Regions from separate parts of the Homo sapiens genome. Here region 2 is linked to region 1. The links come from fine-mapping of genetic effects on gene expression. A gene starts in region 1. The other region holds a variant in brackets. All regions are shown on one strand. Distances are from middle to middle.

What was found. PIP is the estimated chance that this variant, and not a neighbour inherited with it, causes the effect.
Region 2: its variant is the best candidate, but not a certain one, in a credible set for the expression of PTPRB in visceral fat (GTEx, PIP 0.76).

Annotation. Positions count from the first base shown.
Region 1 is chr12:70,635,155-70,640,544 of GRCh38, forward strand. It overlaps PTPRB (protein tyrosine phosphatase receptor type B), which reads right to left and starts at 2,275. Exons shown (of 34, transcript NM_001109754.4): 1 at 2,187-2,275; 2 at 517-912. The coding sequence starts at 2,241. PTPRR (protein tyrosine phosphatase receptor type R) reads right to left here. Exons shown (of 14, transcript NM_002849.4): 14 at 2,925-4,123. The coding sequence ends at 4,030.
Region 2 is chr12:70,989,654-70,995,043 of GRCh38, forward strand. No RefSeq gene overlaps it. Among named protein-coding and RNA genes, the nearest start is that of PTPRR, 72 kb to the left of the region's middle. The variant G/A (reference allele first, on the strand shown) is at 2,907.

The DNA.
Region 1 (5,390 bases):
GATATCTACCCCTAAACAGCAATACAAGAGATTTGCAAAAACACAACTATCTTCCAGTCTTATCAAGCACCATTCTGATGTTCTAATAATTTATTATAATTAGCAAATAGAAGTGTCTGTCAATAAAATCTAATAATTTTCCGATTACTGACTTTAGTCATTACATATATAGGCTGTGTATATGCCTACATCCATATTCCTACATCTAACAGTGCTTAACTGGCAGAGAAGAGAGGCTCATGAAATAGTTGTTGAATTAATAAAAGAAGCAAGACAAGAAGGGAAGGAAGAAAAAGCAATAGAAAAAGTTGGGCTTATTTTAATGAGGGTCATGAAGTTTTCCATCATTGGGCACGTCACCATCCACCTCCATTAGCTTATGAATCTTCCATAGGAAATATGTTGGGGCATGTGGACTTCCCTTAAATGTAAAACAAACAAACAAACAAACAAACAAAACCCCCAAGATATTTAGTAGAAAGACTTTCAGGATTTGCTCTGAAAGGAATAGCTCACCTTTTTGTAAACAGAGGCTTTCATTGACCAGTTTTCCCTCCTTGTTGACATCTATTTTCATCCAGCTATGGAGGTATTTCCTGGCCTTCTTGACCACTACTCTGGAGCCTTGTTTCTGGAGAAAGAGAGAGGCATTTTCCACCTCAAGGAAGCCTTCCTGATCATAGCAGGTCCATCGGGGTGCCTGGGAACAGCGGTCCAAGATGGCTGAGCGGGAGGGGCCGCGGGAAGAGTTGGAGATGGCCAAGCACAGTGCAGATTTAACATGAAGGAGCTTTTCATCCTCAGTCCACATCCACTGCTGGTTCTGGATGGTCCTGTTGCATGAGCCCACGACCACTTTCTCATTTTTGAAAAGACACTGTTGTTTCTGGACATGGACAATCTGAAACCCTTCTGGAAGATGAAAAGCTCATAAAGCACTATGTAGCAAATTATGAGGCCCATTAGAAAACGGAAGAACCCACCCACAAATGAGCTAAATAAAATCACTAGTTTTACTTATATTTTGTTATTTCTATCATTTCAAGTGAACATTCTCATATTTAACACATGTGATTTAAAATTCCAAAGCTGACGATATAAAATGTCAATATGTTACACTTAACTCCCCATCTTTTTTTTTTTTTTAATTTTCACATGCTTTAGGGGAAAAAAGCACACCTCTTATTGGAAAATGAAAGGAAGCTTGGAAAGAAACAAAACCATCCAAAGTATATAGTATATTTTAGCCCAATTAGTTAGATATGCTGAAGTTATGAAATGCTCAGCTCCCTTTTTAACCATTTGACATATTCGATATAAGCTTCCTCCCTTACCTTAAAAAAGCACCCCCTTTTCCAGTCTTTAAATTCACATTGCAGTATTTATATACAAATTTCATAGTTTGAATAACAATTTTTTAAAATTGCATACATTTATCAAAAAATAAAACAAATTTTCCCACTTCTCCAAGCACAACCTCCTAGCTAATTGCAGCCAATGAAAGTATTGATTATCACAAACTAAATTTCCTTTAGTCGTGGAGAGGAGCATTTCTCTATTTTATGACAATATCTACAGTTTTCTCTCAAATACGAATAGATTTTCTAAAAATCATCATGTGCCAGTGTAAGAAAATTAAACATCAAATTGCTAAACATCAGTATTAAAGAGCAAGATACTCTGGCTCAGAAACCATTTTCAATGAGGTTTTACTTAAATTGCCCAGCTCGCTCATGAAAATGTTCAGCCCTCCCAAATGACAACTTCCAAATAAAACACACTACATTTCCTCACCCCCTTTAATCATATTCCTTCAATTTTCTTTCTTCAACACAAAAGAAAATAAAACTATAACCGGGTCGGAAAAAGGCTTGGGGAAAGCCACAGACTGTTATATAATAATACAAACTTTTCCTCGGGGTTCTTTACGCTCTGCTCTAAATGTATCATTTCAGGGGCTGCCTGAAGCATTTGGAGGATGAGAGGAGAGCATTTATTTTCTTTTGGAGAGAAATCTCAACAGTATGGGCATAGCTGGCTCCTTTTATTCCTGCTTTTCATCGTCTTTGGCTAAACTGCCATGGAGACCTGGCCCCTTCTACCTTATTTCAGACACTTCAAAGACCAGGGACTCCTTGGCTAGATCTTGAAGAAATGCCTCAGGACACTGAGGCAGACCCACTCACCTGAGTTCCTGAAGATCAAGCAGGTAAGAATCACCATGTAAAATTCAGCCTCCATTTTCCACTTAGCAACTGTTCATGCTTCGCTTGGGGAAAAAAAAAATTCTCCCAGATAAGAGAAGCAAAGACTAGGAAGGAAATGTGCCTTCATGGTGGGGGGAAAAGTCAGTGACGAGCACTTCCTCCTATTGAATTGTTTGGGGAAGTTTTACACCAGTGTCCTTTTGTCTGTTTCCTTAGAAAGAAGGGATTATGATTACCTCTTTTTTTTAATGTAGAAAATATTCCAGCCTTCAAGAGCAGAGTAAATCTCGTTAAGACCTCACCTACCTTTCCTTTGGCATGTGACTGCTTCTTAACCTCAAGAAGAAAGAAAGGAATTGAAATCTCAGATAATTGAATGTTCCTGAAACATTACATCTCTTCAGGTGATGTGATTCTGCTGAATAAACATAAGCCATGTAATTGATGAGGGTCTATGACAAGTGATATAAAGACATAAACATGTACTGTTTGTATAATGATATGCTGCGAGTCTATTGAGGAAAACCACATAATGATGGCACTTCTAGATCATTATCTCCCAAGTGATGACAATATTACATTTTGAGATCGTCATCTTCACTGGGGAGATGCAGACACTAAAATTAAACCCATCACATTATCTACTTTGGTCTTCCCCAAACAGAGGATGGCGTCTTTCCAAATAGAAAAAAAAAAAAGAATATGCTTTACTCAGTATTTAGTATTAAGAGTTTATTGGCAGTATGAAACAAAGTCAACATTGCTGCATTAAAAATTCATATATGAGCAGAACAGCTAGTGTTTGCTGAGGGTAGTTATTTTAATTTTTTTTGTCTCTTGAAGATTGAAAGCTTTCAGAAATGTAAGGACATACATGGAAATGTCCTTATAAGGAGCCTCGAAAATGGGACAGATTATATCATTCCTGAAGGCATATACCTTTTGTTGAGAGAGAGATTCCAGGTAGATAGCATATTCAAAAATCCCTTCTTAGCAAAAGAGAGACAAGTAGTTAAAACTCTTGATACTTCAGAGTTGCTACAAATTTGTTTTTCCCTTTTAAAGTAAAATGACTCACGATGTGGAAATACAGTGGATAGAGTTCTGGAGCAGAAGCCACCTTTATGCCCAATAATAGAGAGTAAATACATATATACCCAATGACAATCATTGTGCTCTGTAATTGTTTGATAGGAGGGACTATAAATACACATTTAATAGGTAATATTATCAAGACACATTTCCATATAAAATAGTTACTGTTTTTGATTTTTGTTTTTCAAAAACAAAGACTTCTCTGTTAAAAATCCATTATCAATCACTTGCAACTTTAGCAGCAAGATTCTGGTAACTGAGAAAGGTAATAGCACTTCAAAACAGGAACAGTTTAACAGCTGACAGTCCATTCACAAGACAGATTTTGCAAACATTAAAGCATCTAACACATAATACGAATGTCTTCAGCAGCTCATCCAGTCATCACCTGATGACATTTATTACTGAATATTACATACATACATTCTGTGTGGCAGATAGAGTCAGTACAGACAAAACAAAATCTGCCTTAGGCTGTGTGATAAACCTATCATACCTCCATCATCAAAAAACCTTCAGAATAATTTGGGGGATGCTTACAAATGCATTCATATACACAAGGAGCTGGAAATCTTAAATATGTTGCCCAGTCTTCCACAATCCATGCCATACATGGGCTTCAGAGCTTCTCCTTCCTTCCATTGCAGGAAGCTCCTTCTAGAAGCCTTGGGTGGGTAATTTGATTAATCACCCCAAGAGATTGATGGTCTGACAAGTCTTCAATGACTCACTGGACAGTCTCTGCTGAAAGTCTGCTCTCATACAGGCACAGAGCATGGTGCACAAATTCATACTGCTCACTGGTTTGCACCATTCCACCTCTGCAAGGAAGAAATCATAAAATAACTGATTTTGCTAAAATCTTGCAATTTCAAGTAACACAGAGATTTCATCCAAGCTAGGGTATTATGCCAAAGACACATAGAACAGTCGACCTAGTGGTTCTTTTGTTATCCCTCTTACCTGTGTCCAAATGTCTCAACTATCAAAGTTAACATGGTAATGTATATAAAGGGCTTAACACAGTTCCCAGCACACACTAGGCACGTGATTAATTTTTACCTGTGTAACATTACTGGGGAGGTGGTACAGCCTAATGATCAAGTACTTGGATTTGGCATCAGCCAAGGTGAGTTCAAATCCCTCCTCTGCCAATTCTTAGCTGTATGCATCTTGGACAAATTCCTCGAAACCCCTTGCACTTTAGTTTCTTCCTCTGTTAAAGCAGGATAGTAACAGTAACTACTGCTGTGAAGGTTAAATAAATTCATTGTAGCTGGTATATTTGTATTACTTCTCAGGTGCCTCATGATTCATCTCTTGTTAAAATGGTTTATACATTTGGCTTAAAATTGATTGACGGAGACAAACCAAACAAAACTCATCTGCAAAATGTTGCTTTCTACAAGTAAAATGAAGTCTACCTTGGAATGGTTTATTTGAATATGTTGTACAGAAGCAACCTTAGCCTTTTGGTGTACGGGGTGTCTAAACACAATAGTGGGTGGGTCCTTAAATGAGTTGGAAAAAGGGAATTGGCTCTGCTGTGACATTTTCCTCTTGGTTATCACCATTATCATCACTAGCTGCCCAGCACCCTCCTTGTCAATGGATTCATAGAAAGCACTTGCCTTCATGAGAAATAACGGTGCTTCTCATTATGTTTTTATATACATAATACCTATATCACATTTTCCCCCTTCATAATTATGATCCTTTTTTAATTTTAGTTTTTGAGAAAACGTCTCCTTAATTGCTTAGGCTGTTGTGCAGTGGCATGATCACAGCTCAGTGCAGCCTCAACTTCCTGGGATCAAGCAATTCTCCCACCTCAGCCTCTGGTGTAGCTGGGACCACAGGCACCACCACACCTGGACAATTTTTAAATTTTTTTTTTCTTGTAGAGACAAGGCCTCACTATGTTGCCCAGGCTGGTCTCCTGGACTCAAGTGATCCTCTTGTCTTGGGCTCCCAAAGTGATGGAATCACAGGCTTGAACGACGGTGTCCAGTCCTATAATTATGATTTTTTAGCTTGACAAAGTTACCAGACATTAATATGTTACTATTCCTGCTCACTGTATAAAAG
Region 2 (5,390 bases), 350 kb after region 1:
TGAAATGTTGCTTACTTCTAAGAACTCTTCTTTATTAATAATAAGTATGTTCCTAAGTATCCAGTGAAATAATCTAAAATTGCATACATTTCTATATTAACAATTTTCCTATGTCATAAAAATATTTCATTGGAAGTGAAGACCAAAAAGCAATGTAAGTACTAAATCTCAAGGATTTATCAACAGAAAACATTATAATTTTATAAAGACTATAAAACTATAATTATAATTATAACCAAGTTGTAATTATATAATTATTTAACTATAATTGCAAATTATAATTATTCCTAAAAATTACTGTAAACTTTCTTCACAAATTTGTGAAACCAAATAATTCTTTCCCCATTACTAGCTTTTCCTCAACTCTCAAAATGTTCTGAACCTACACATATTAACTTTTTCAGAGACTTTTTTTATTTAATAGTGAGCAGAGCTTCCAAATGAAGTTAAGACGTATGACATGTGAAACATGAAACAATTTTTAAAGAGCCAGCCTTCCTAAAGTCCCTGACATATCTTCACTCATGTTATGCTCCACTTCATGGTTGGATTAGACTGGTATGTGTGATCAATAGCCAGTTTCCTGAATCTTCCCATTGTGTCTGCTGTTCATGTGCATAATCGATCAGAGAAATTCCACAAACCATACTACTTTGTGCCTGTGTGCGTGCATATATATATATGCACATAGGTCTGAAATGAGCAATCCTAACACAAGGTTTAGAAATGTCCAATAGCTATATAACCACAGTTTTCAGAGTCATGGATCACCTCACTCATCTGATTTTATTCTGACAAGTTTGTAGGCCTGATTAAGACATAATGATGACACTACCTTCTCCTTCCAACCATTCCATTTTAGCATTACAGCAGTGCTTTGAAAGTGCTCTTCCGATTCTGATATTCCTCCTTATTCATACATCTTATTTACACATTTGGGAATTCACTGCTCCAGGGTCAATGTTATCTCAGATCTTGACGTCTTTCCACAACCCAATCTCAAGATGGTTTTCCCTTCCAGTTGACAACACTGACCTTTCCACCCATTGGGCTAAATAGTGGTAGCAAAATGTTAGGCTAACTTATACATTTCATAAAGTACCTTCTACTGGACAGAAATTTTGTTGTTCATAGACTTAAATATCAGGGGAATGAAAAATTTCTCCCTTTCTCTTCCCTAAATTCTGTACTTTCAGAACCAGAGAAACCCATATATATATCTATATATCATTCCATGACTCTGAAAATTGTAGTTATATAGCTACTGGACATTTCTAAATCTTATGTTAGGATTGCTCATTTCAGACCTATGTGCCTATGTATCTTTTATGAAGGAAGATTTGGATTACAAATCCAGACAATTACATCTGGTAGTATTCTACAAATCAGAGGCCCTTGCTGTGTGTGGCATCTCTCAGAACACTGGATTTCAAACTGGAGCAAAAAGTTGTTAATGTTTTTGTATGTAGTGTCTTTTTTTTTTTCTTTTTTTGAGACAGAGTCTCGCTCCATTGCCCAGGCTGGAGTGCAGTGGCGTGATCTCGGCTCACTGCAACCTCCGCCTCCCGGGTTCATGCCATTCTCCTGTCTCAGCCTTTCGAGTAGCTGGGACTGCAGGCACCTGCCACCACGCCCGGCTTTTTTTTTTTTTTTTTTTTTTTTTTTGTATTTTTAGTAGAGATGGGGTTTCACTGTGTTAGCCAGGATGGTCTTGATCTCCTGACCTCGTGATCTGCCCGCCTCGGCCTCCCGAAGTGCTGGGATTACAGGCGTGAGCCACCGCGCCTGGCCTGTGTGTAGGGTCTTAAAACACTTATCTAATGGAAAGAGTGACCTAAGCCACCCAAAGTTACTGCATCACAGAGTTATCATGACAATATTATAACACAGTACATACAAAATGCCTGATGTAGAACAAGGCATGTAGCAGGTGCTCAAAAATAGATACTGAAGAATTAAGTCTTAGCCAACTTGTCCTGCCACATAATTTAGTTTCCACTGTGACAAGCTGAGGTCTCAGTTCTTTGTCACAGAAGACTTGAGTATATGCTGCACAATGGTCACTTTCCATTATATTTGTTTTTTAAAAGCTATTGGTATATAATTGACGTACAATAAGCTACATATATTTAAGCTATATAACTTGTTGAATTTTAATACACCTTTGAAGCCCTCACCATGCTCAAGATAATTAACAAATCTATTCTCTTGAAATTGTTCTCTTGCATCTTGGTAATCCATTCCTCCTTCCCCTGCCTCCTTCCCTGGAAAATCACGAATCTGCTTTCTCTCACTGTTAAGTAGTTTACATTTTTGAGGCTTTTCTAGAATGGCCTCTAGAAATTGAGGCCCTCAGTCCTTCAACTGTAGGAAACTGAATCCTAACAACCCTTACAGAAGCCTGGAAGAGGACTCTGAGCCTCAGATGAGGTTGCAGCTCCAGCCAACACCTCAATTGCTGCTTGTGAGACACTGAGCAGAGGACCCAGTTATGTCGTGCTCAGATGTGTGACCTACAGAAGCTTCGCGATGCTAAATGCATGTTGTTTTAGGCTGCTAAGTTTCTAATAATTTGTTCTACAGCAATAGAAAAATAATACACTGCCAAAACAGTGACCCTATCCAGGCTACCATTTCTGAATATTTTAAACAGTCCCATTACATTTTAATGAGAAGGTTTTTTTTTTTTCGAAGAGTCCAGTACCATTTTTATGACCACCTTCCTAAACGATAGCTAAAAATGTAAACTGAAAATCTCCTTTATAATAGCATTGATCTGCCGAGATGCTGTAGCTGCTGTTTTATTGTTCACAGAATCTCTCCAGTGCATTTGATCATTCTGATGACTTATCATTTCTCTGCATATGTTAGTCAAGGAAGGATGGAACTGGAGAGTATTTTCCTTT[G/A]AAGCTTGGCATGGGGAATAAAAGAATTATGTGTATCAGAACTCTAGTTCTTTGAATCTCCTTTTCCTCTTTTGTTCTCCTACTCTTAGAACCAAATGAAATTGAAAATGCAAGAAGAAGCCAAAAAGCATCAGTAAGATACACTTGACAATTTTGATTGACACTTCCTACTGCAGGTGAATTCCACATTTCTACACGTATACTTTGCTTCAGAGAGCAAGACCATAAATACTGGCTCTCAGGCTGGTTGGAGGATAATGTTTTTCAAGTTCTAACATTGTGTTATTGATGTAAATACTACTACTATACCACCATTTTGCCATTTTCATGCATATTTTAAATTTTATATACAGTATTTTGGGTAAAAATTAACTTTGGAGTCAACCAGCCTGAGCTCTACTGCCTCTCTCAGTTACTTGCCATGTGCTTGTGTGTAAGTGAGCTAACCTCTCTGAACACCAGTGTATTAATCTGTAACATAACAATCAGAGCTCCCATTGAGTATAGTTGTGAAGATTAAATGAGAAATGTATGTTGTTTACTTAATGGTGATTGACATACAGATAGTAACGTTATTACTATTAATGTATTAACATGTTAACTTATTAATGGTAGCAAGTCTTAAGGTAAATTTATTTTAAAATCTGAACATTAATAAATTCAGTCAAACAAATTCCAAACATTCATTACCTCTACAAGTATTATATGCAAAGTATTGTACAGGAAATAAGCAAAAGTCTAGGCTAGGCAGAGTGGTATTTTTCAATTATAGGTTCTTTTTAAAGAAAAATGTCCTAGTGTATCTGTGTTAATTTGAATGATTTTTATTATAATATTACAAATACACACACACACACACACACACACAAAACCTTGTACCATGTCTTATGAGGTATAATATAAATGATAGGCATCAATTTGTTCATCCCACATGAACACAGTAGTAATAGTTATCTTTTGACTGTCATGCAATTTTTACATGTGATCTCATTTAGTCACCTAATAGCCTTGGTAAGTTCAATGATTATCCCTAACTCTCTGAGTGATTAGAAAAAAAAAAAAATGAAATGTAGCAGGAAAAGGGTTAGGAGAAATATCTGAGCTAGAGATATATACTAAAAACTGATAGTTGAAGATGAAATCATGAATACGAAATTTCAAGAGATAAGAAAAAGGATGCTTACCCTTCTATATATAAGTGAATGGCTAAGACATACATAAGAGAGTCCCATTTGAACCACGGTCTGTCTGACCCAAAGATTGTGCACTTACCACTACTTTGTATTTACAACTGGGCTAGCAGTCAGACCTAGTTTTATGCATAGTGAAATTAATAAGCTTTAGTGTTCCAACACTACTATTCAATTCACAATATAAGGAAATGAATACACTTTGCTGAATAGTTGTGACTCCTAAACCTTGTCAGGTCTAATATTATTTGCCTAGGTGAAAATTATCACTGCCACATTGACTACAATAAAAAGATTTGAATCCAGATTTTAATGCTATGTTCTTTCTATCTGTGTTATCAATGAAAGACCACACAGAAATCAAAAAGAAGAGGGCGGTTTCTAGAAAGCAAGTCTAGAAAGGAAGAGTAAAAAATAAATGTTTATTTGGGAGACACTCTTTTGGCCTTTGTCATTTCCAATATTCTGTTCATAGTTGTCCTATTAGTTTTGTGGTCTACGGAAATATTACGAAATCTTCAAGACCAAGAAATACACACTGTTCCTTCCAGAAGGCCAATTTTCTTTGCCAAACTAAACAGAAGTTCTTCAAAAATGCTCTGCTATGCTGGAATGTATGAACATCATTTCAGTTCAGCCTTGCCTATTCAGTTCCTAAGAAGGGAATCGTTATGAAGTGAGTATGAAAGCCACTCAATGTGTGTAAAGAAGATGAATGGCAATGCTGTCTTTTCAACTTCTCCCATCCATAGTTAAAATGGAATCATGGTTGTCCAGCTAAAGACTTTATTTGGCAGCCTTCCTTGCAATGAGGTGCGGTTATGTGATTAAGTCCTGGCTGATGCAACATGAGCATAAGCCATATAATTGTTGCTAAAAAATCAGTTACTGTTTACTTATGAAAGTAAGTCATGCATTTAAGAGAAAGCAATGTGCATTCCCCTTAATTGTTTCCCATTTCCAGTGGATATAATGTGGATATGATGACTAGAGCTGAAGAAATCATCGTAATCCACAAGGTGGAAATTGTCCACACAGCTGCCTTTCCTACACTGGATGCCTTTCACCTGGGCTGCCATGTGAGCCAGAAATAAGCCATTTTGTTTAAACTACTGTTATTTCAGAACCCTATAACAACGATTGTATCTACAGCCTAATTAATTTTGAATTTGATACTAGAATTGGTGTTGCCAGCTCACACCTGTAATCCCAGCACTTTTGAGAGGCTGAGGAATGTGGATTTCTTGAGCCCAGGAGTTTGAGACCAGCCTGGACAACATGGAAAAACCCGATC